Linked DNA regions of Homo sapiens. The protein of the gene in region 7 interacts with the protein of the main gene of each other region in a pairwise test. Each region holds a gene or a part of one and is shown on either strand. Other genes may lie near its edges.

What was found.
Region 1: the proteins of NEK7 (region 7) and TPX2 interact in binary tests that used the Homo sapiens proteins (3 or more experiments, as listed by UniProt).
Region 2: the proteins of NEK7 (region 7) and MYBPHL interact in binary tests that used the Homo sapiens proteins (3 or more experiments, as listed by UniProt).
Region 3: the proteins of NEK7 (region 7) and SP6 interact in binary tests that used the Homo sapiens proteins (3 or more experiments, as listed by UniProt).
Region 4: the proteins of NEK7 (region 7) and SPATA17 interact in binary tests that used the Homo sapiens proteins (3 or more experiments, as listed by UniProt).
Region 5: the proteins of NEK7 (region 7) and POC1A interact in binary tests that used the Homo sapiens proteins (3 or more experiments, as listed by UniProt).
Region 6: the proteins of NEK7 (region 7) and PSAT1 interact in binary tests that used the Homo sapiens proteins (3 or more experiments, as listed by UniProt).

Annotation. Positions count from the first base shown.
Region 1 is NC_000020.11:31,777,290-31,780,789, reverse strand, and holds part of TPX2 (targeting protein for Xklp2), read right to left. Parts: intron 3,304-3,500; coding exon 3,152-3,303; intron 1,978-3,151; coding exon 1,806-1,977; intron 1-1,805. UniProt on the Homo sapiens protein: Spindle assembly factor required for normal assembly of mitotic spindles. Required for normal assembly of microtubules during apoptosis. Required for chromatin and/or kinetochore dependent microtubule nucleation.
Region 2 is NC_000001.11:109,304,212-109,308,284, reverse strand, and holds the start of MYBPHL (myosin-binding protein H-like), read left to right. Parts: upstream 1-1,273; 5' UTR 1,274-1,293; coding exon 1,294-1,438; intron 1,439-4,073. UniProt on the Homo sapiens protein: Myosin-binding protein which plays a role in cardiac function. Seems to regulate conduction in the atria and ventricular conduction systems.
Region 3 is NC_000017.11:47,844,408-47,848,163, reverse strand, and holds the end of SP6 (transcription factor Sp6), read left to right. Parts: coding exon 1-865; 3' UTR 866-3,256; downstream 3,257-3,756. UniProt on the Homo sapiens protein: Promotes cell proliferation. Plays a role in tooth germ growth. Plays a role in the control of enamel mineralization. Binds the AMBN promoter.
Region 4 is NC_000001.11:217,637,844-217,641,343, forward strand, and holds part of SPATA17 (spermatogenesis-associated protein 17), read left to right. Parts: intron 1-3,500.
Region 5 is NC_000003.12:52,147,924-52,151,423, reverse strand, and holds part of POC1A (POC1 centriolar protein homolog A), read left to right. Parts: intron 1-252; exon of another isoform or gene 253-323; coding exon 324-408; intron 409-1,436; coding exon 1,437-1,608; intron 1,609-2,034; coding exon 2,035-2,214; intron 2,215-3,500.
Region 6 is NC_000009.12:78,314,125-78,317,624, forward strand, and holds part of PSAT1 (phosphoserine aminotransferase), read left to right. Parts: intron 1-3,500. UniProt on the Homo sapiens protein: Involved in L-serine biosynthesis via the phosphorylated pathway, a three-step pathway converting the glycolytic intermediate 3-phospho-D-glycerate into L-serine.
Region 7 is NC_000001.11:198,292,998-198,296,497, reverse strand, and holds part of NEK7 (serine/threonine-protein kinase Nek7), read right to left. Parts: coding exon 3,459-3,500; intron 1-3,458. UniProt on the Homo sapiens protein: Protein kinase which plays an important role in mitotic cell cycle progression. Required for microtubule nucleation activity of the centrosome, robust mitotic spindle formation and cytokinesis.

The DNA.
Region 1 (3,500 bases), on a different chromosome or scaffold from region 7:
AGCATCAATATTAAGACATCACCACCACTCATTGAAAATATTAATTTACCTGGCCAGTGAAACCTTGTCAATTTTCATAACTAATATAGAATGAATCTTTCAATTTAGGTCTTGTCACATAACAGTGGTAGATCAAAACCAAATCTATTTTAGAAATAAGCCATGTTTCAAAGATACATGTAACCATTATTTAGCTGTAACTGTACAAAGTTTTAAATAAAAATTGCATAATATAATTTCTCTTTCCTTTTGCCAGGACTAGTATTCTGAAAGCAGGACATATCAGACTCTGAGTCATATATTATTTGAAAAGTTATGCTTAATATTTAAATTTCCATTAGAATAAAGAAGAATATTTCATTATTTTCATACTATAAAATCTAACAAAATCATTTTGGCCACTAGAACATAATAATAATATTAAAAAATGCTGTACTTGGCCAGGCGCAGTGGCTCACACCTGTAATCACAGCACTTTGGGAGGTTGAGGCGGGCGGATCACTTGAGGCCAGGAGTTCAAGACCAGCCTGGCCAACAGAGCAAAACTTGGTCTCTACTTAAAATCCAAAAAGTAGCTGGGCATGGTGGCACACACCTGTAATCCCAGCTACTCGGGAAGCTGAGGCACGAGAATCTCTTGCACCCAAGAGGTGGACGTTGCAGTGAGTCGAGATCGCGCCACTGCACTCCAGCCTGGGTGATGACACCCAGAACGAGACTCTGTCTCAAAAAAAATGCCTATGCAAGGATATAAAAAATTTAGAGATCCTCAAAGGTAAAACAACCACATTCTGCTTTATCCAGAATACTATCCCTATACTCCCAACAACTATTTAATACCACCTCCACCCTTCAGATTTCATCTTCCTTCTTGCAGAAATTATTTCCATAAAGATAGAAACTATTACATTAGAATCCGCTCATCTGCTCACCACCAAATCTACAAACTCCCCCAGTATTTGCACCCATTCCTCCCACTCTTCCATCCTCCTTTTAAAGAACACTCACTCCACCTGTGCTAAGTATCCCTCCAATACCTGCCTGCTCAGGGACTTAATCCATTAGTTATCTCCTCTCTCTCGTACCTTCAGCTTCTTTATCTCTGACGAGACTTCTCAACATTCAGACATGCTCTCCCTATCTCCCACCTCCTTTGACTCTTGCACCTCCCTCCTCCTCAAAATCCCCTGCCATAATTTGTAGTGACCTGTTTATCTAATGACAGTTTAAGAATGCAAAGAACTAATTAGTGTATCTCTAATGACAGAGATAAATAGGTCACTACAAATTATGGTAAAGGCTTTTGAAACTTGATGTCGAGTTTTGAAACTTGAATTAGAAACCTGATGTTGAGTAGCACCAAGTCTATTTTATTTACCTCTATATACCTAACACAGTGTGCCTGGTTAGTAGTAGTAAAAATTTTGGTGGACCACTGAATAAAAAGCACATAGCCTTGAATGAATGAAATGCCTTCATTTTCTATAGGTAACTAAATGCAATGTGACACTTTGACACATGGCAAAAAAATGTCCGTTAAGGATGTGTAATGACATCTCAGGTTACCTTAACTCATTCCCCTTGGCCAATTATTGATGAGGAGGATCAAGACGGTTGATGGGTATAAGACAGACAGCTGGGTGGTTTGAAAAATTCTGAAGGATACATTTGTTGTCTGCATAGTCACACGCCATACTTTAATTGAAAAACTAGGATTTCAGCTAAAGACAAATCTGTGCCTAAGATGTAAGCAGAGGGAATGTAGGAGAGGTTCCATCCAACTGTGATACTGGTAGGAAACTTACTAATATCATCCTTCTTGCTCCTCAAATGATATCTGTTAGGGGTTCGTTTATGGAAGTCTTCAACTTGCTGTGCAAGGGGCACATATGTAGAAACTGTTTCATCAAATGTTCTTTTCTTTCCTTGGGACAGGTTGAAAGGCTTAACAATGGTACATCCCTTAGTCACTCGGGCCTGTAAAGAGAAAAGTTGTTCCCCAAATGAAATGTCACGGAAGAGCTCACATCTACCATAAGCCACATATTCGGCACAGAGGATCAATAAAAAAGGCCTGTGTAAAACCAAGATTATTATTCTGAAGTTTGTCAGTCCTTGAGCAAGGGTTATAACTAATCTGTTCTCATTAAAAAAAATTAAAAATGGAAGAAAGGATCTAGCACTTAACAAATCTTATGTTCTGGAATAGTACATAGGTAATTTCCCCCCAACCATGTCAATGTTTTGAAGGAATCCAGAGTAAGCTATCTTAGAATTGAAGACAAAAAGCACTGCAAAGAAATCTCACCCTCAACTCCACTTTAAAAAAAAAAATTGATTGGGCCTCTGGGTATGCATCAGGTCAGGCAGCTTCCTGAATCAGTGGAATCTCTCCATACATCCCCTAAAGAGACTGATGAAGAAGCCTATTCCTATTCCTTGGACCAGTAATTTTGATAAAACTGGTCTCTAATTGGAAGCAAAACCCTTCAAGGACCTGTATCTCAAAGAAAGAAGCATAACCTCAGGGTTTAAGAATGCAAATAACTAATTTCAAAAAATGATGATACTGACTACAAATGCAAGTGGAGATTATTAGTACTAGCATTTTTACTTAACGATTATTACTGATTTTGTTGGTGCTCTGGTAACAAAACTGCATGAGATTTGACTGGTCTGCCCCAACCCTATTTTTCCTATAAGATCTGTTATATTGGCCAGGCATGATGGCTCACACTTGTAATCCCAGCACTTTGGGAGGCTGAGGCAGGTGGATCGCCTGAGGTCAGGAGTTTGAGACCAGCCTGGCTAACATGGGGATACCCTGTCTCTACAAAATACAAAAATTAGCTGGGAGTGGTGGCAGGCGCCTGTAATCTCAGCTACTTGGGAGGCTGAGGCAGGAGAATTACTTGAACCCGGGAGGCGGAGGTTACAGTGAGCCGAAATCGTGCCATTGCACTCCAGCCTGGGCGACAAAAGTGAAACTCCATCTCAAAAAAAAAAAAAGATCTGTTATATTTTACACAACTTTATAGACACAAGGTTTTTTTTCTCAATTATACTATTATAAACAGTGACCACAAATGCTACACGTAAAATCCTAAATGAATATTAGTAACAGAAATGTTCATTTAGTCCATCAACTTACAGGAGATGAAGGATGCTTTCGTAGTTCAGATGTAAAGTTCACTTCCTTATATTCCTCCTGGTTCTTAGGATGTTGTTTGATTCGCTCATCTGTGCGGAAGTGGAAGTCAACTGATTTGGTGACCTGGCTCACTGATTTCTTCACAGGTTGCCCTGAGAGATGAACACAGTAAAACATACAGACAACATTAAGATAGGGAACACCAGTAAATCCCCTTTACTCCAGTCCTTTTGCTATTTCTGTCACCATGGATCTAACTTTGCTTACTATCTACCTGTAACCCAAAACTTGAAGTAGTCCTCAGGGACACTAATATATGTGTCATATTCACTGAGTACTATTAGGTTTG
Region 2 (4,073 bases), about 89 Mb from region 7:
TTTCCATGAAAAAAATACAGGGGTGAGTAGGGGGCTGTGGGAACCCTATACTTTCCACTCAGCTTTGCCGTGACTCTCAAACTGCTCTAAAATTAAAGCATTTTAAAATGCAGAGGGATGCTGGCTTCTGGAGATAAGAAGGTAGGAGTATGATAGGTGGCAGTGTCCATGGCATGTACAACACGTATAGAAAGATGGTTTGCTAAGTCTGGAAATCATGTAGGACCTGTAGTATGTGACTAGCACCTGCTGTGAGCTGGCCACTTTCCTATAGATTGTATCATTTTATCCTCAACACAATCATGGCATCATCCCTTGTTTCATAGACTGGGACTTGAGACTCCGAGTCGGCCATTTGCCCAGAGTCCCAGCTGGTGAGTGAGTGGTACAGCCAGAAGTCACACGCAGGTCTCTGAGCTCGCCTCCCTCCACCACTGCTGCCTCTCCCTTTATTTGTACTTCATCTAATAGGCAAGGCAGCCATTGACAGCTCTCAAAGGGGGAAGTGCTGGCCTGACCTAAAAATAGCTTACATTTATCAAGCACTTAGTCGGCTACACTCTGCTAAGCACTTTACAGAGATTACCTCTTTAATCCTCACAACGACCCTATGGTTATAATTATCTCCATTTTACAGATGAGGAAACAGACTGAAGAGAGACTGTGAGGTGTTGTGAGTCACACAGCTAGTTGGTGACAGAGCCCCAAGTGGCACCTGGGCAGCCAGTGCGAGTGCAGTCTCCACCTACCACTGCGCTGTGCCCGCTGCCCCCGGGGAGCGGGGGAGGATGGGACAGGCCCTGTAAAGGTCGAGTTGATAAGACTTTACAATTCATTGAATGTGGGAGCAGAGGGAGAAAGAGCAGTTCAGGCGTTGCTGTGAGTCAGCTAATCCTGGGCCCCTTCTTTGGGACCTGAATGCCCCACGGGATGAACTGGAGGTCAGGAGCAGAGATGTCACTCAACCCTCCCTACAGAAATTAGAGGTCCCTTTTGGATGGTGTGTTCAAGCTCTCCCTCCCTGGTGCTGTGGGGGGTGTCATCTCTCTCCCGAGATAACAGGGACACCTCAGTCCTCCTGGGGCTATTCTGGGCTGCTGTCTGATCCTCCTCTCTCCCCCAACCCCTACTTCAGCCTTTCTGCTGGGCGTAGCTGAGTGGGGAGGGCCAGCCCAGTTACGTAACCCTGTGGCTGGGACCCGGGAGGCCAGCCTGGGAGCAGGTGCTCAGCCCCTCCCTCATCACCAGCAGTGAAAATCTAGAGCTGGAGCTCAGCCTCTGGGAAGGCCCAGCATGGAGGCAGCCACAGCTCCGGAGGTGGCCGCAGGATCCAAGCTGAAGGTGAAAGAAGCCAGCCCAGCGGATGCTGAACCACCCCAGGCTTCACCTGGACAGGGGGCTGGCAGCCCCACTCCCCAGCTCCTGCCCCCTATAGAAGGTGACCCATGGCAGGTGGGGAGGGTGGGGAGGCCGGGTGGTGGGAGTTGGGGAAGACATCGCCACCTTCCTGAACGGCGCCTCAGGTTTTCTGCAGAGCTAAAGACTCTATAGGATTGGTGATTAGGCTGGAGATCATTCGTGAGAGCCCCCATCCCCTGTCCTTGATGGAGTCTAACTTGCTGCTCAAATGTCCCTGCTAAGTTTTTGTGTTTTAGCTGAGAAGTCAGTGATGGTGTTGGTGGCACTTTACAGTGACTAAAAATGATCTGTTTATATTTTTACCTTTTAAAAAATTGTCATAGGGACTGGGAAGACCTGATATACTAATGGCCAGTCAGGAAGGGACTGAGGGGTAAGAGATAGTGACTGTCTGCTGAAGGAACAGGGAAATAAAATGCTATGGCAATGGGGAGGCTAAGAGTGGGGCAGCACAGTGACACTCGGCCTCCTGCTGGGCAGTACCACGGGGTCAGGACCTCCTCCAATCCCCCACTGCTCCCATAGGAGATCCTGACCCCTCAGAGTCTGAGCTCCACGGAAGTGGAGCTCTCCTGGGAGAAGCATTCAATTTCCCCTTCACGATGGTCTCTGTGTGCCTCTCAGCAAAGAGGCGTTCCCAAGTGAGGAATTCCAACCCCGAGCTTCCTGCCGCCCATCCCTGAATGCCCTGGCTGAGGCCTCTGTAGCTAACCACTTCGTGGCGCTCACCTGAAAGTCTTAAGAGGATGAAAAGACCACAATCAAGAAACACGTGGACTCCTAGGGCAGGAAGAGGCAGGGGAAAAGATATACTAGACTTGGAGGCAAAGCTCTAGGCTCAATTCCTAGTGCCGCCTCTAACAGCCCTGTGACCTTGGACAAGTCACTGGACTGCTCAGTTTCCATTTTCACTCTGTAAAATGGTGATTAATAACATCTACCTATCAGGGTAGTTGAAAGGATTGCTGAGATGATCCAGGGTGCCTTGGAAGAGGCCAAACTAAGATGTAAATAAATGATCAAATATTTCCAAGTGAGAGGTGAAGGCTGCGTTCTACCTCCATAGGGTTGTGCAGCAGACTCTGTCTGCCTCTTATCCTCATGGGAGAGGCCAGGTTTCCAGAAACTATTTGAATGTCAAGGGCAGAGAGCTGGCCAAGTTTGTCCCGTTGAAGATGAAGGGAGCAAAAGTTAGTGTAAATATATTAAGCTGGGGTGATGGAGGCAGAAAACCAGTTTCTTCCCTTAAAAGGCCCAGAGAATAAGTGACAGGCAGCAGGAGAATGAGAGCCAGGACTGCTGACGCCTCAGCTCTCTCTACTGGTCTTCCCAAAAGCACAAGGGAGAGTGCTCATCTCCCCCATGCTTCTCCCCTCTGGCTGCAGCCAGCTCCTGACAGCCCCCAGTCACGGGCCCGCAAATGCAGCCCAAAGCCTCTCGTGTGCAGCAGCTCTGTACACTGCAGGCCTCAGGGCCACTAGCACCCAGTGGCTCAACCCAGTGGTATCCCAGAAGTCACTGGCAATAAGAACACCTTTGAATACTTTGCAAAATATATGTGCATCTGTTAACTACTTGGAACAAAGAAGTCATGAGTTCAAATCTTAGCTCTGTTCTGTGGCCCTAGGCAAGTCAATCCACTCCCATTTTCTCATCTGTAAATTGAGGAGTTGAACCAAATCAGGGTCTTAACCTTTTGGTGGATATGGACCCCTAGGAAAATCTAATGCCAGCTGTGGACTCTTGCCCCTGGAAAAATACACAAAAAAGTTCAGAGAGCCAACAGAGCCCCAAACCCCCACCAAAGATCCTTCAGGGTGCAATGCATGGGCCTGGACTAGATGACCCCTAAGCCCCCTGAGAGCTCCAAAGCCTTTCTTCCTCCTAACTCCTCTTCCTTACAGAGAGCTCTGGGACTGAGTATCACAGGAAGCATGTGAAAACATGGGAACTAGAGCAGGCATCAGAAATAGAAATTAATTTGCAAGATCAAAACCAACTGCAAATGGCCAACAATGAGCTTTTAGTTTGGCAAGCCTGCTACATGGCTAAATAAGCAGGAGTAGGTGGCCAGCATTGGTAAACAGTTCTATGTCTGTCCTCAGCACTACACTGAGTACTGTGTCCTGGAGACAAAGCTTGGCAGGGGCCAGAGAAGAGCTTCCAAAACAGGGAGAGGCTGGGGAACAAGCTGCATCCCTCCCATGGACAATGTGACACTCGGCCTCCTGCTGGGCAGTACCACGGGGTCAGGACCTCCTCCAATCCCCCACTGCTCCCATAGGAGATCCTGACCCCTCAGAGTCTGAGCTCCACGGAAGTGGAGCTCTCCTGGAAGAAGCATTCAATTTCCCCTTCACGATGGTCTCTGTGTGCCTCTCAGCAAAGAGGCGTTCCCTGGGACCCTGAGGTGGAGGAGAAAGAGCCCATCTGCTGACTTCAGCATCATCGCTCCAACTGACTCTGTGTTCTCTTTCAATCTGAACTGTTCTGTGTCTTCCAGGCATGGGAAACTGAATCTCATGCCTAGGAGTGACCTTTCTTCCCTCCTTCCTTCCGTCCTTCCTTTCCTCCTCCTTCCTTCCACAAATATTTAGGTTGTGCCTATGATGTGCCAGGCGCTCTTCTAGGTGCCAGAATTACAGAAATGAACA
Region 3 (3,756 bases), on a different chromosome or scaffold from region 7:
GGGCCCCTTTTCCAAGCTCCTGCAGCCGGACATGTCACACCATTATGAATCGTGGTTCAGGCCGACTCACCCAGGCGCGGAGGATGGCTCGTGGTGGGACCTTCATCCGGGCACCAGCTGGATGGACCTCCCCCACACTCAGGGCGCGCTGACCTCACCTGGCCACCCGGGGGCGCTTCAGGCGGGCTTGGGGGGCTACGTCGGAGACCACCAGCTTTGTGCCCCGCCACCCCACCCGCATGCGCACCACCTCCTTCCAGCTGCCGGAGGGCAGCATCTCCTAGGGCCGCCCGACGGGGCTAAGGCCTTGGAAGTAGCCGCCCCGGAGTCTCAAGGGCTGGATTCCAGCCTGGACGGGGCGGCGCGTCCCAAAGGCTCCCGGCGGTCGGTGCCCCGCAGCTCAGGCCAGACCGTCTGTCGCTGCCCCAACTGTCTGGAGGCGGAGCGACTGGGGGCTCCATGTGGGCCCGATGGGGGCAAGAAGAAGCATTTGCACAACTGCCACATCCCGGGCTGCGGGAAAGCCTACGCCAAGACGTCGCACCTGAAGGCGCACCTGCGCTGGCACAGCGGCGACCGTCCCTTCGTGTGCAACTGGCTCTTCTGCGGCAAGCGCTTCACGCGCTCGGACGAGCTGCAGCGCCACCTCCAGACCCACACCGGCACCAAGAAGTTCCCCTGTGCAGTCTGCAGCCGCGTCTTCATGCGCAGCGACCACCTGGCCAAGCACATGAAAACCCACGAGGGCGCCAAGGAGGAGGCGGCTGGGGCGGCCTCGGGAGAGGGCAAGGCCGGCGGCGCAGTGGAGCCCCCCGGGGGCAAAGGCAAACGCGAGGCCGAGGGCAGCGTGGCTCCCTCCAACTGAGCTCCTCAGTGCCGCCTCCCTGCGGGTATCCCGGGGGGCACTGGATGCGAGCCCCCAGGTCTGACGTCCTTGGGGGTGGCTTGAGGAAGAGGGGAAGGTGCGTATTTATTCAGGGAGGAGGAAAAGTGGTGCAGGGACAGGGAGATGGGGCGCTAGGGGTTCTTAGTCTCTGGGGCTACTAGGCAGGATGAATTTGACTGGGTCGGTAGGAGCTGCGCAATGCCCCTCTGTTCTCCCCTGCCTCACAGTTTCCCTCGCCCCTGGGCTGGGGGGTTGGGGTGGGACACCCGTACCGCGGCTGGCTGGCGGGGACAGGCTAGAGGAGACAGCAAGTCCCAGTCCCCGGAGCAGAGAGAAGTGGGGCCGGCCCGGGGCGCTGGTGGTGGCTGTCTGGACACGTCCTTAGCGCCTGGGAACCAGGACATAAAAGCGCCTCCGGAGCCGCCCTGCGGCGGGGTCCCTTTCATCCCACTTAAAGTGCTTCTGCCCCTAGGGTTTCCGGAGGGAGAGCCGAGATGGGATGGGGGAGCCTGGGGGTCCCCCTTGGCAGGGGTGTCTCTTTCTGGTTTGGAGGGTTGTTGCTGTAAAAATAACTCCTTTGATGAGCTTCCTTATTAACCCTTTCAGACCCAGTCTGTTGGAGCCATGAAGGAAGAGGGAAAGAGGGCTGCCATTCCTGACAGCCTCCCAGCCAGGGCTGGCGATAAAGGACCGAGATAGATGGAGGGGGCGAGTAGGGAAGTCCTCTTCTAAAATGAGAGATAGGGATTTGGTGGGGTATGGAAGGAACTAACCCCTTCCCTCTCCACCTCTGATTCAGCCCTTAATTCTTGGTCTATGATAAATAAAGTTCAGTAGTCTCACATTCCCCATCTATTACCCTAGGTGTGTTTTCAAGGCAGCCAGCGGTAGAATCCATGTAGTTCCCACCAGTTGCCTTCCCCTCAGGGATGGAAGGAAGAGGGTTTCTTGGGCTGGTTGAGGGCAGATTGGGGGTGTCTCATCAGAGGGACCTCCACTGGTTCCCACTCAGAGTGGAGGCCTGCAGCCTACCTGACCATCTCTTTAGCTGTCACCAAGAAAATAAACCCCACTGTCTCTCTAGCTTGGCCCTTGTCTTTCCCTTGCCCCTGCCATAGCATGTTCATTAGGGGATTCCTTCCTCCCCCTCATCTCACAGGGGAAGGGAGAGGAAAGAGTTGTTCTCCCACTGGAAGGGGTTCTGCCTTCTGAGGTGACATCCAGGAAGCTGTCCCCATTCCCTTCTCCTTTAGATGCTAGAAACACATTTTGATTCTGATCATGGGGTGGGGGAGAGAGGAAAGGAGGGAGGGGAGAAGCCCAGCAGAAGCTGAGCCAGGCAGAGGGGAAAGAAGCTGATATGAGGAAGGGTCTGACAGGCCACAGCCCTTGCAGCCGGAGGGCTTTCCCACACTCAAGAGAGGGGCCTTACAGTCCCTCTGACACCCCTCCCCCTTCCCCTCGCTCCCTTTCTTCACCCGGAGCCCTCTGCAGAGATTAGCTGTGTATTGATTTTTAAGTTATAAGCAAAGGGTATTTTATTTAATATTAGGTTATGTGTGTGCATGTTGTGTGTACCTGTGTGCATGTATGTGTGTTTCTCTACTGAGCCTGGGGTCTCTAGCCAGGGAGACCCCATCTTATTCACCATGTCCAAGATCCTGGGATCTGGGCCCAGCATCTCTTCCTCCTTTGTAGATGCTGGAGCCCAGCCAAGGTCTGGGAGCTATATGGGAAGTGGGGGCTGGGATCTGGGTGGGAATATGTGTTTGTATACAAAGGGGCCCTCCTTAAAAGGGACAGGATGACCTTCCCGAGGAACTCATTGGCCTGGGGTAGTTTAAGAAGTAATGTTCTTTCTTTCTTTCTCTTTTCCCTACCTCCTGCTAACCCAACCAGAGATCCCCTTCCTTGCTGAGAGGGTTGGGGGCAGGAGGAGATTTGGCAGTGCCTGCAGGTTGCCTGGCCAGGTGGAGAGGGGGAAAGAGGAAGGGCACCGTGGGTGTAAGATGCCTTTCTCCTCCACCCATCGAAACCAGCCACCCCTTCCCTGTGCCACCAAGACAGCCTTTTCCAGTGGCCATCCTAAGGGGAACTCCCAAATGGGTGTTGCTGGTGGACACAGATGCTCCCCCCAATGGAAGCCCCAAGCTCTGAGGTATGCGGGTAGAGGCTTTGGATAGGTTTTCTTCTGCTCCCCTCTTTTATAGATCTAGGCTGCTTGGCTGCCTGTCTTTCTAGGCAGTCCCCCTAGAGGAAAAATGTAGGAATTTATTTTTTCTTTAACTGCTGTGAACTCACTTTGAGGGGGTAGGAGGAGGGAGAAACAGCCTGTGTTTTTTATGCAATAAAGTCATCAACTACATCATGCTTCCTTTGTGTTCCAGCTCTGTTTCCTTTTTGACTCAGTGTCCCTCAGCAGTGAGGACCAGGTCTGGGCCACAGAGTGGGGTGGATGCTTCCCAGTGATCCTGCAGCCCCTTGGAAAGCCTCATGTCTATTGAGTTGGGTTGGAGCTGGGGTCTGATCCTGCCCCAGAGGTGGCTGGTACAGAAGGAGGGAGGTTCTTCCTCTGGGTTGGTACCCGGGCTGTCCCTCCCTGGTCTCATACCTGTGGTTATGAGAAGTTTCTAGATATCTCTTTCCTCTTCCACATACAAGCCCCTTCTTTCCCTTCCCCTGCTAAGAACACTGGTTCCCTCTTTCCCAGGCACTGGCTCCCTCACTCCATCCCCATAGAGGGTGCATGTCAGTCCATCCCCTGCCTGTGACTGAGCTGGGGGTGATTGGCAGTGATTACTTCACCCAGGATGATCCTTATCAGGGACAAGGCGATGAAAGGCAGCCGAGCTATCTGATGGGCTCCTGCC
Region 4 (3,500 bases), about 19 Mb from region 7:
GCAACAGTTCAAATCCTAACTCTGTATTACTTTAGGCTTAAATGTAAACTTTTAAACTTATATTCTTACCTTACTTAAACTCTTTAGATATTAGTTTTCTCATCTGTAACAGGGATAATAATGCCTATTGATATGTTAACTAAGAAGATTAAATGATCATCTGGTATATTAGTAAGTACCCAATAAATTCATAATTATAATAGGAAATCACAACAGAAGGGTAAAGTATAAAATACATATGATCGACTCAGTGAATATCGAAAAGGTAATTGAAAAATTTTTTGGCTATTCCTAAATATTTTTCTTTTTTCATTAAAAACGTAAAAATTTTTATTGCTGTATTATATACATTAAGTATATAAACTGTGTGAAGTGTACAACTCAGTAATTTTCCATAGGTATATACCTGTCCAAACTTCAGTCAGATAAAGTTCTGCAGTGTTTGTTTTAAAATATGTTTATGAAAGAAATAAGTGTTTTAATAATAAAGAATATGTTTCTAAAACCAACAGCCAACATTAGATGTGCTGCTGGAATACAATAGAGATGGTTCCATTTAATTCAAAAGCAAAACAAAACTGCACAATAATTCTGTCTATTTACCATGCCCTGAAAGACAGATCCCTATTTGCCAACATGTTCACTGCTGGCTCATTGATGGGGAAAAAGAAAATTGAAAGTACCTTTTACTGTCTTATCAGTTTATCACTGCCCAAGTAACCTGAGCAGAAAGCCCTGTATATGTATCAAACAACTGAATATCTATTAAATAGGCAGATAAACTTCACAAGACATTTAAGGAAATGTTAGTTTGGAGGAAGGAGATTAAGCTAAGAAACCAGAACAGATGGCTACTATGGAGTTAGAACTAATGGATGAAATAGATACAAACTTCAATAAAAATGTAATGTGAACTTTTACAGAAATAAAACTAGAGGAAAAAAATACTGTAACCAATTTTTAAAAATAATAATTTTCCATTTAAAAATGTAATAGATGAATTAAAAACTAGAATAGTCACTACTGAAATATAAATATGTTAGGAAGGCAAATAAAGGAAATATCCATAAACACATGTGAATAGAAATCATGAGTAATAAGATTAATAATATGGAGGACATACCCAGAGGACTTGTTATGTGAATAATAGTTACTGCAGAATTCTGACTGGGAGTGGGGAAGAGATAGAATAATAATAAAGAAATACCCTAGAAGAAAACTTCTAAACTGAAGAAAGAGTATGGCTTAGAATAGAAAGGATTATCTGAGTCCTATATAGAATTTCCTTTAACACCTACTTCTTAGATATTATCTGGTGAACTTCCAAGAATACAGGAAAAATAATCTCATAAGATTCTATTCTGGACAGAAAATAAAAATAGTTATTTGCCAAGGAAATGAATGCCCTTTCTGCTCAACACAGGAACCCAAAAGACACAAAAACAATAATTACTAATGATTCAAGACCACAGATAAGAATTCTATCAAAGATTCATTTGGGGATTGGGATGAAAGAAAGACATTTTCAGACATGTAAAGACTCCTAGTTATGTCATCTATGTACCCTACCTGACGAAATGTACTCAAGAAAGTACTTGCCGTAATCAAGTAAAAATTAAATTGGAACAAAGATCTCAAGATAGAGGAAGAAGAGCAAAAGAAATAATAGAGACAACAATGAGCAATTCTACAATAATTTTCATTTAATTAAAAATTAAATAAGCATTATGTTACTGTGATTTACCTTATATTTAATTAAGACAAATTAATCTAGAAGAAGTAAAACAAATTAAGCTGGAAGAATGCGATTGGTACTTTAATGTCCTTTCTAGATATCTCCTTAGGCAAGTTCAAAAGTTCACTGTACATTTTCAGTCTTCCAAGTGATCATAGGCAATAGTCTTGCTATAATAATTGTCCCACTCTCACATAATAGAGGTTCTTTTTCCAGCTTCTAATATCAATTTTTTCACCACTCTTCTGACCCACATGTATGGTCTCTCAATGACATGTGCATCTTCCTCACCTTCTCACGCATCCCCCAGTCCCAAAGCCAATACCATAATGTTTCAGGTTTTTGCCGTGGCCATCAACCATTCTATCAGTTTTATTTTAAGCTTTTATAGTCAAATTAGTAAATTTATTCATCTGACTTTAGCAATCTGAGTTGTTCTTGGAACAGTCTTTCCCAACCTAAGATTATATTTATTTATAATATTTATAATTATTTATAATTTATTTATAATATTTAAAAAGTTTTGTTATATTTTTCCTTCAGTCTATGTGCAGTTGTGTTTATGTGCATGTATTGTGTGAGATAGAGGCCTAACTTTTTCTATAGAATACAGTTGTCTCAACAGCAGTTATTAAATAGTCCATCCTTTTCTTACTAGTTTTAAATGTTGAATGATAAGCAAATCAAAGGCATAAAAATTGCAAAGGAAGAAGTAAAATTGTCTTTATTTACTGACAGCATAATTATATGTGTAAAAAACTCTATACCACATACAAAAAAGGATTTAGAAGTAATAAATGAACTTAACAAGTTCGCAGGATGCAAGGGCAGTATACAGTAGTCTTTACATAACAGCAATGGACAATTATAATTTAAGACTTTGGCAATACCATTTTTAATAGCATCAAAATGCATGTCATTTGACTCAGAACTGTCACTTTTTCTATTGGCCTCATAAAAATGCTCTTATGTGTACATAAGTTGTGTGTAAGAGTATTTTATATACAGGATTATGTACAAGGGCGTTCATTAAAGTATTATTCCTAATAGGGAAAAAATAAAAATAAAAACTGTAAATAACTTGTATCTATTTGCAACTACTATGGCTAAATAAAGACAAGCATATGAGGGAAAATAAATAGCAGTTTAAAAGAGTGAAACATTTTATACATAATGACATGAACAAAATCTCTGAGACAAAATAAGGTATAAGAAAAGCCCAGATTATAGAAAATATATAATACATTTAGTGTTTTTTATGTAAAACAAATGTAAAAATACATAGAGATACAAAACTGGAATTAGATAGATCTGGAATTACACATAATAAGTGGTTAAATTTTAAAAATTGAAAGAAAGTGAGGTTGAAATAGAATCTTTTTTCTCTATGTTTTTCTGTATTATTTAACATTTTATATTGAGCATCGGTTAATCAGGTACTTATTTGTGAAATAAACAGTAGATAAATGGAGAAAGTTTGTCCTAGGGCAAAAATTTTGTTTCGAAAACAAAATTAAACATAGAAAATAAGTGGCCGTGGAAGATTTAACTAGTACAAAACTTGTCCTCTGACCGTGAAGGACTAGAAGACTCAACAAAATATATGAACAATTATTTTTAGGTATTGATACAGTAGGCAATGCAAGATTTGATCTCAAGGAGAAAGATCAGCAAATGAGATTAACAAGACAATTACCCCAGCTTTCTTTTGGAGGCAATCTCTGAACAAAATTCAAACTCTCAATAGTGTAACATTCATAGCGTC
Region 5 (3,500 bases), on a different chromosome or scaffold from region 7:
TTTTATTTTTTGGATTATTCATTGCTAGTGTACAGAAAGACAATTGATTTTTGTGTCTTGATTTTGTATCTTGCAACTTTGCTGAACTCATTTGTTTTTTGTTTTTGTTGAAGCATTTCCACAGTTGATGTATTAATTCAAATAGTAAAAACTATTCCTAGTAAAAACTAATCCTAAGTGGATTCCTTAGGATTTTCTTTATATAAGATCATGCCTTGAGCATTTTTAACCCTACTCCCCCGGCTGTTGTAGGAAGAGTGCTGGCCCTGGGGAAGCCCCTTCCTCACCCAGGCTTCACACATTTGACCCTGGCTCTCTCTCAGGAGGACCCCTCGCTGGAAAGGCATTTTAAGGGCCACCGAGATGCAGTTACCTGTGTGGACTTCAGTATCAACACAAAGCAGCTGGGTAAGAAGAGGCACCCTGTCTAGGTGCTAGGTTATGAGCTGAACAGGCCAAGTTTTTACCTCGGAGGGGTGGTGGGTGGGAAGCAGAGCACAAGGACTGCACAGCTTTGTCTAGACCTGCTTCTAGTCTTGCTTCTGCTTGCCAGCTCTTTGGGCACTGGGCTTCATGAGCTTCATTTTACATGCAGAGCCTGAGGGTCAGAGAGGTTAGGGGCCTTGCTAAGGCCACAGAGCTTTTGAGGGTGGGACTGGGATCTGGGTCTTTTCTGCACACCCTAGCCACCTTTTGGGTCTGTCTTTTGGTGTGGGCCCTAAACAGTGACTCCTTTTCCTTGAAGCTTTACTGATTCTGTTGCCCACAGTAATAAGGCACACCTTGTTGAAGAGCCTTGTCAGTGAGAAGGCTGTTGAGCAGAGATGGGCACCCCCCTCGACCCCACTGCTCTTATGCTGCAGCTGACTGTCCCCCTTCCTTGGTTGCATGAGGTTTCGTACACAGCTTTTATGACTGCGCTTTCTGGTTCCTGCAGAGGAGGCTTGCCCCTTCATCCTGTCATCAAGACCCTCTGATGTGTAAAGGTTAAGAGGGAACTGAAGTGATTTTTGATCAGTTTTGGGGACCTCCTTTAGGCTTCATACTGAGTTGGGCCCTCTCAATGGGAGGGGCTGGCTTCCCAGCTGGGGAGGACTTGCTCTCTGGTGCCCTCAGGATGTGTCTGGGGGGAGACCCTGGGCCCCATGGGAATGAGTTTTCCCAGAGCTCTGGATTGCAGTCCAAGGCTAGCATGGGAAGGGCCTCGGTCTTATTCCCATGTGGGTGTGCTCCTTGGAGAACTCTGGGCCACAGGCTCTCCACCTCCAGACCATACCTCGAGATGTGCTCTGCTCCATGGGAGACTTCTCACGGTCTGTTTGTGGATGCCAGGGAAGATGGAGCTGGGCCAGTTGCTCCCCCTGCCTCTCCAATGTCTTGGTGGAGGCTTGAAGCCTGTTAGAGCTGTAGGTCATAGCATCACCCACTGTCCTCAGCCAGTGGCTCCATGGACTCATGCCTCATGGTCTGGCACATGAAGCCGCAGTCACGCGCCTACCGCTTCACTGGCCACAAGGATGCCGTCACCTGTGTGAACTTCTCTCCTTCGGGACACCTGCTTGCTTCCGGCTCCCGAGACAAGACTGTCCGCATCTGGGTACCCAATGTGTGAGTCGTACACTTTGAGGAGGCTTGTTGGAGTCTGGGGCCCTGGTGCCAGAGCCATCCCCACCCAGGTCCCCTAGCTTGGCTCTGGACTGGTCACAGTGGGACTTCTACTCTGCTTTGGAAGAGGTGCCATCAGAGGCTGGGGCTGCAGTTGGAGCCCTCCCCTCAGGGTTGGAAGAGGAGTTCTGGGCTTACCCAATCTATCCCTAAAGAAATGCCACCTGATGCTGTGTTCATGTGGGTGGGGCCTAGAGATGGTGCTCTGTTCATATAGGAGAGGCTCTGGCTTTCCCTTGTGGAGACTGGGGTACTCGGGCTTGACTGACTTTGGGAGGGGTGCTTGAGGAGTAGGAGAGCTTTGATGTGCTTGTGGGCTCTCATGTCACTGTTATGGGTTTCCTTACTCTTGGATGCCTGTCCTTGTAGCAAAGGTGAGTCCACTGTGTTTCGTGCACACACAGCCACAGTGAGGAGTGTCCACTTCTGCAGTGATGGCCAGTCCTTCGTGACAGCCTCTGACGACAAGACAGTCAAAGTGTGGGCAACTCATCGCCAGAAATTCCTGTTCTCCCTGAGCCAGCATATCAACTGGGTCCGCTGTGCCAAGTGAGCATTGTTCTGTCTGGAGACCCTTGGAGGAACCCTGGGGGTTGGGGGCTGGCCCAGGGGCTGCTAGGTACCAACTTATGACCTCGGGCAAGTTACTTAGGCATTGTTTAAGCTTCCTCAGCCTCGGTTTCCTTATCTGTAAAATGGAACAATAATAGCTCCTGCATTGTAAGTTGTCGAGAAGCTTCATGGAGCTGATGCATGACATGTAAGTTAGTCCATAGTCAGCCATGATGACCCTCTGACATCTGTGTTGGCAAAGCACAAACTGGGTCAACAGGGGCCATTTATTATCAAAAACAATTAGGTACTTTCAGTACTACCATTACACATTTTCTTTTTGTTCCTTAAGACAGTTCTGCAAGCTAGGTGCATTTCCATTTTGCAGATGAGGAAATGGGGGCTCAGAACAGTAGTATCTTGTCCCAGAGCACACGGTGGGTCTGTGGCAGAGCTGGAGTTTGAACCCAACTCTCTCTGACAGTAAGGCTTGCCTACTTTCCTCTGGGATGTTCTCAGGGGATGATTTTGCTCCAGAGCTCCCAGATGGGGGCGCAGGCTTCGGAGATGGGGGGCTTAGCCTGGAGGCTAGCCTTCCTGCTGGCCAGGGAGCCAGTGCTGTGCAGACAGCGGGCCAGGTAACCCAAAGGACCTTTCAAGGTCCAAGAATTGCAGACAGATAGTCCTACTTCTAGCTTATTTCATTCCTTTCAACAGAGCTTCCCCATGGGTCAAATATCTTTGCTTCAGAGGAAGGGGTTGGGGTGCCAGGTGACATTAGGAAACCACATGAGTCAGAAGTTGGGGACTATTGAGCTGTGTTCTTCTGGGGACCCCATACAAGTTACTGTTCTCCAGGGCACCCCCATTCCTTTGTCCTGGGAGACCCCTGATGGCTCTTAGAGGCTTTATGACTAGGGTCCTGAGATCAGGAGGGGCCAGGCCAGCAAACTGGGGTGTCAAGTCCATACTGGGCCTTTGGTGGCAGTCCCCAGGACCTCATGCCTTTTGTTGGCAGATTGTGTCTTGCTGACCCGCACTTGAGTCAAATGTAGACTCGGAGGACCTGGTCCCAGAGTAATGACACTGATGGTGAGCTTTTGGCCACCTTTATGCAAATGTTGCCGGCAGGCAGTCGGCTGCATGTTGCCATGTGCTGTGCGTCAGGGGCAGTGCTGGGGCTTTATGTGCATGAGGCTGCTCTGTGCTCACTCGTGAGGCAGGCACCTTTTTTTTTTTCTTTTCTTTTTGTTTATTTATGTTTGGTTTTCCTCTAAGTCAGG
Region 6 (3,500 bases), on a different chromosome or scaffold from region 7:
TAAGCTGTGTAAGCGTTTTAGAGCCCTTGTGTTTTCAAGATTTTAGACGGTATGGGAGTTGAAACATGAGTTAATAAAGAACTGGAAGCCACGAGGGTCCTGTGTTAAGTAGAGCCACAGGGGCTAGACATCAGTGCTCTGCAGAGGGCTGGGTGGGAGGGGAGGCAGGACCTCCTATCCTGTGTTAAGTAGAGTCACAGGGGCTAGACATCAGTGCTCTGCAGAGGGCTGGGTGGGAGGGGAGGCAGGACCTCTTATCCTGTGTTAAGTAGAGCCACAGGGGCTAGACATCAGTGCTCTGCAGAGGGCTGGGTGGGAGGGGAGGCAGGACCTCCTATCTTGTGTTAAGTAGAGTCACAGGGGCTAGACATCAGTGCTCTGCAGAGGGCTGGGTGGGAGGGGAGGCAGGACCTCCTATCCCAGGGATGTCTTCAGTCTTCAGGACAGCTTGCTTGCTTCTGAGTTGTCTGCCTCTTGTTTAGGCTTCATAGAGCCAAGTTATGGGTGCTGGCTCCAGGCAGCCCCTAAAAGTGGGTGAGCTTTCTGCTGGCCTTGCCTCCTCAGATCCCATTAAGAAAGCCAGAGATCATGGGCGGCGAGTGTGAGCACAGCAGTCAGCTAGGGGTTCAGGCGTCGGTACTGAGGTCTGGCTAGGACGGTGGACCTGACATGGGCCTTGCTGCACTTTGGATTTAGACAAACCAAATCCACAGTGCAGCAAGGGCCCATGTCAGCTTTGAAACCCTGGGCTAACACAGAGCTTCAGGCAAAAGGGAAGCTTGGTCACCTGGAAGTATTGTTGGTGACCTGGGCTCTGCTTGGATTCAATCACATGGCAGGGTGTGTTTCTGTGGTTCTGTGTGGAGGTGGGGGGTGAACAGGCTGCAGGTGTGGGAGAGGAGCAGTTGGAAGTGAAGTGGGAATTGCAGAGCATCTGATGAACAGAGGGCTGGGCAGCCTCGTGTCTGGAATGCACACCCACGTGCATGTGTGCTGTGTGCTGGACTTGGCCACTGTCACTGGTGTGTGGTGATAGCTCTGCAGTCCCACTCGCAGGGGAGCTAGTGGCTGGAGCCCTGCAGCCCCTGGCAAAGCAGAGGGCCTGCATACTTGTGGGAAGAGCTTGCATTCTTGGAGTCAGACAGGCTAGAGTTGGAGTCCTGGCTTTAAGCTGCTTGCCAGATGACTTGAGGCAAAGTTAACCTCTCTGAGCCTCAGTTTCCTCATCTGGAAAATGGGATGACGGTGGCTCTAACCCGAGGATTATTGTGATCAATAAAGATAGGCTGAGGCCACAGTAGACTTCAGGAAGTACTCATTCCCTTCTCTTACTTTCTCTCTTCTGTCTCTTTTGTCCCTCTGACTTCTTGGACGTTAGCCAGAGAGCTACCGCTGAGGCTGTGGATATTCTCAGGGGCTGTTTCCTCTTCCTCCCTGCCTTCCCTTTCTGCCAGCAGCCACTCTTGCTCTTTCTTCCCAGTGCTGTCTGGGGAGGTAGGCTGGGGAAGCTTCAGGAGAGGTTGTTGGATGTTTGTGGCTGCTGGCTGCTCCCTGCCTAAGGCCCCTCTGGGCAGCCCGGTGTTGGCTTTTGCCAACATGAGCTGGCATGAGCCACTGCACCCAGGCCTTGGGTCCCACTTGAGACAGTGAATGAGCCAGTTGGTATAGGGGGCTTCCCTGTGACAAGCTGCTGGCTGTTAGAGCATTTTCCAGACCCCATAATGTCCCCTCCTGTTAATAAAGGAGGAAGCAGCTGGGTATCCCCACCCTAGATCTTAGCTGAGCATTGACTCCCAGTAAATTTTTGCACAATTCCCATAGGGGATCTTTGATTCACACCTCTGGAGAGGGCATAGTTGGCAGCTGACCTCCAGACTCCCAGCTCAAGGGAGATGGTGTCTTCCCTGGGCGACCTCTCCTCCTGTGCCCTGAGCTTTTACTGAGTACACGTGGAGCCTTTAGCACCTTCTTAAGGAGAGGGGTTTTCAGACTGGGGAAAACCATGCACCGCTCCTCAGTGTTTCATATTTTCAGCTTAAGTTTGAAGGGACTACTGACTGCCATTTGTGTGGCCCACCTGCCACGTGCCAGGCCCTGTGCTAAGCGTTGGTCTGGCAGGAAGAAGTTGAAATACTTGGTTCAGAAAGGGATGGTCCTGAGCTGCGGGAAGGGCCCAGGTGCAGCTGGACTTCCTGGAACCAGGGACACAAATCCTCCTCCATCTGCTCTCCACTTCTGATCCTGGCTTCTCTCAGCGGGAATGTTGGCTTCATTTTCAGATGGGCCTTCTTCAGATGTTTCCTAGAAACATGATCCCCTAGGGCTCTCATCTCCTGTCTCACAGTTGCACTAATATTCTGCCGCTTTTTCTGCTCTCCCCACTCTTTCTCCCCACACCCAATTCAGAAAATCTCAGGGAAGGCCCTGATTGGCCCAGTTAGGTCCTATGCCGAACTCTGAGACCAGGGAGCCAAGGGGCCTTGCTGGACCTGCATACTGGCTGGAGGGTGGAGTTGGGAAGAGCAGGGTGGATAAAATGCCAGGTGTCCACCACAGGTAGGTGGATCTCCCGGTTCCAGATGGGAAAACCGAGGTGACTAATTCTGGGTAGTCTGTTAGTGAGTGGCTGCCCTACAATGGGAGTCAGGACTGGGAGGGGGAGCCCGTCCTTTTAACCCCTCGGCCACAGTGCTCTCTGCTGGCTGGAAGGCACTGTGCTAAGGATGTGGGTAGAAAAGATGAACAGCGTGGGCTTCTAGCCTTCCAAGACCACAGAGGCCAAACAACAGGCACACAGAAACTTAAAAGAGCAAGTGGAAAAAAACTATGCAGGTAATATGGGCAAGGCGCTCTGGGAGTTCAGGAAGTGAAGAGCTCGCTCTGGGTAGGGGTGGGATTGGGGTCTGCTGATGCCTTCTGGTGGAGATAAGGAAGTGTGTTCTGGCTCTCAAGAAGAGTTTACATTAGGGCTTAAGCTGGACAAGGAGGGACTGATATGATGTTTAGTGAAAAATCTGATTAAACCTTTTTCTGAATGGCCCTCAGGGATCTAGAATTGGGTTGACCCTAGTCCTTGCTTGATGACATGCTCTTGTTCACATGGGCCCTGCTTTTGTCTTGTGTATTTTCTTTCTTTATTTTTTTTGGAGACAGGATCTCGCTCTGTCACCCAGGCTAGAGTGCATTGGTGTGATCATAGCTCACTGCAGCCTCGAACCCCTGGGCTCAAGCATTCCTCCCTGCTCTGCCTCCCAAGTAGCTGGGACTATAGGCACATGCTATCACACCCAACTAATTTTTCAATTTTTATGGAGACGGGTCTTGCTATGTTGCCTAGGCTGCTTTCCAACTCCTGGCTTCAAGCGATCCTTCGGCCTCGGCCTTCCAAAGTGTTGGGATTACGGGCGTGAGCCACTGCATTTGACTATCTTGTCTATTTCAAATAATGTGTTTAAGTCTGTTTTAATGCACCTTCAACAGCAGTTTGCTTGAATATAGTT
Region 7 (3,500 bases):
CTTCCAAATGAGATTTTTATGCAGAAAAACACGACCCAAAGGATGAACAACTTTAAAAAAGACATTATCGAATTTAAATTTATTTTAAGACAAGGTTCTAACTTGACATTTAAAGTGCAAGCAAGTACTGTGGTAAGCAGTGTTACAAACTAAAAATTCAATTTAAAATGTTCGCATCCTGTTCAAAACCTTCTAAATCTTTGAACCACAGCAGCAAGAATACAACACGGAGTGCCAGGCTGCCCCAAAGTCAGTCACCCTTTTCTACATGTGCTAATAAGTTTGATTTTGGAAGGACAATGTGTACATTCCCCAGACAGGCAGAGTGTGTGTGAAACACGCTAGTCCATGCTGTGCTACTCAGTGAGCGTCAGTGGGGACAGGACAAGCTGAAAATGGCTCTCATCTGTCTTCTGTGCTCCAGACAGAGCTTTAACTCCTTCAGAGCCTTGATGAGAAGGGGATGGGATTGGAAATCAAAACTGGAAAGTAGCTCAACACATTTTTATCTTGCCTATGTTTTACATAAAACGTGCACACAACTATATAGAAGTACCTTAGGAAGAGTTGTTTCACATGACGAGAAAAAAGTTAAAAACAATCTGAATGCCCCTAATCATATAAAACACTCTGAGAGGAAATTTCTAAAAGAACCACAATAATAATAATAATAATAATAATAATAATAATAGTGGTTTTTGTTTTAAATGCAAGGACACTTTAAGATCTTACCTTAAAAATACACTGTATATATAAACTATAGTCTCTCCGTGTTTGCAAAACCTTAAGTAAATGTACATATATTCATTATCATATTCTAGGCGTTCATTATAGTCCTTTTTCTCAGTACTGCAGAGTGTTAAAAAAAAAAAAAATCTGAATGTCCCCTAAGGAGTTAAACAGGAATAGTATATTTTCATGCATCTCCTGCTTTGACAGATGAAAAATGTCAACTGTCCTGTTTTTATTTTCAAGCTTTTGCACTATTCATCTGGTTCATTAGTGCATCTCGATGCTGCCCCTGACAGCTGCTCGCCCTCTCCTCCCAGCAGCTGAATTTTTCAGGCTAATTTGATCCTCCACACTGAGACGATCGCTAGAATGATTGACTTACTCCCTGACCTCCAGGGTCTGACTTTCCTGATTAGTATTCTGGGGGTGTCGGAGGGACGAAAGCCCACTGTCTGTCTTCGGGGCTGGTGGCAGCTCTCTTTTTTTTTGAACTGTAAGCCACCAACCTACAACCCTGTAAGGATGCAATTGCTGCGCTGAACAATAAAGGAAATGTGTAAAACCTACTTTTCCATGTAAAGGTCCGTGTAGCAAAAGCACAGCATCTTGATTTTAATTAGTAAAGTCTACTTTGTTGCATATCAATTAAAACTGTACTGCTAGTTTTTTTTTTTTTTTGAGGTTTCAGGAATATTTGAAAGTCTAATTTTCTGAGTTTAAAATACATTTTCAAAAAAGGCTTCCTACGTCTTCATTGTTAATAGTAATTTTTTAGTGGGTACAATACAAAATACGTGATGTTATGACCAATTTTTAAAAGCCAAACTGTTAGCTATTTCTATTAACAGTACATTGAAACACAACTGAAAGGAAATAGAACATAAATTTAAATTAAAGCTTTAGAAAAATTCTAGTTCTTCTAAAAGATTTGCATGGAGAAATCAAGAAAATGCGTTGAGATGAAAACTAACATTAGCATGATAATACTTTAACTCAAAATCATCCACAATACATATAACTCATGGATGTAGAAATGTCCAAAGATGTTATTTTTATTTTTGTGGCATTTTAAGTCCATACAAAAATGGGACACCGTCTCTCAAAGGCAAATTCAAAATGTGATAAATTATTTCAGTTTTGACATGAGTATGCTAAATCTAAAAGAATTATGCAAACTTCCTCTCAAAAACCACTTACTACCTCAACAGAACTTTTTCTTTTTTATTGCTAAATTTAATCTAGTTATTGGAAACCAATTTGCTGTTTACTTTTAGGGATTTGAAGAGAATATGTTGCTTTGATAATATTAGACTATGGCCTAAAGGAATCTAAGGTTAACTAAACAAATATAAAATATTTTAAATGTACAGAGTGACTAACTTTTAAACATTATAGTAACAATATAAACAATCCAGTTCTTTTTAGGATTGTACCAAATTATTAACAAAATATAACACAGTGAGCGTAATTTCTTGTAATCTCGTGCACATATAAAAACATGTTTTGTTACATTACTGACTCATAATTTTTCATAACAAAAATTATCCAAAGTATGAGTTTATTTAAGAATATTTAAAAATCCTTTCATTTTAAGTAGTTGTTAGTCACTTTAGTAGGAAGGACAAAACAAATAATTTCAGGTTCCTTAAATTAAGGAAATTTGAATCTGCAATGAATAAAATAATAAAAGATCATGACATACATTTTTAAAGAGTCAAAAAACACCTCCTAATGCTCTACTTCCAAGTAATGGTGGTACAATTAAAATAGATGATTTCATCATATATTTCATTTAATTCTGGAGGACAAGAGACAGGAAATATATATAGTAGGAAATGCATTGGTTTCTATTTATCCTCTTTAGACTTCTCTCATATACACAGAGATATGAAAATGATTCCTACACAGGGATATGAAAATGCTTCCATGTATTACATTTCCTCACTTTATTAAAACCTACTTAGATATAGACTAATTTTTAATTAACAGCTTTGACTCGAAGCCTATATTCCTAGGAAAATTATCATTCAATTAAAAAAACAAAATTACAGAAGTCACTAGCTTGAGATACTTTTATACCAACACAGATGTAAAATGTGTTACTAACATGCTTTCTTTTATCCACCCAAATTATTACAGTGCAACATTTCTAGAGGACCTACCTACATGATTCCATCTTCCTTTGATAAATGATCACCAGTAGAACAAAAGAGAGAGTATTTCACTGAGCTTTACCAATACAAATTGTTACTCATGGAAACTAAATTGATAACCTAGAAGAACTATCTGTTTGCATACTATCCTTAATGCTAAATTACACCTGTGTAAAAGTGAAATAAAATATTGATAAAAATATTTACTATACTTTCATATATTAAATCCAATCCATTATGCCACTCCTGTAATGCATGGATCAAGATTTACAGATGTTCAAACGTATATTTTTACAAATGCAAGATATAGAGAAAGGCGTTATATTAACATAAAAGTTAATGCTTTAAAAATAAACTTCTCATCAAAAGAACACAATTTAAAAATATATTAGATGTGTAGGAATGTATAGTTATTAAATTCCATTATACAAAGTTATTAACCCAACGAAAATTCTTCACAATTAAAAAGGTGATTCTTAAACATCCAGAAAAAAGTAAGTATATACTATAAGGATAGAGGAAATATACTAAGTAAAACTGCATCAATATTTGGAATTTATCAACATTACCTACCTCATATAGTAGACAGCCAAGAGACCAGATGTCAGATTTGAA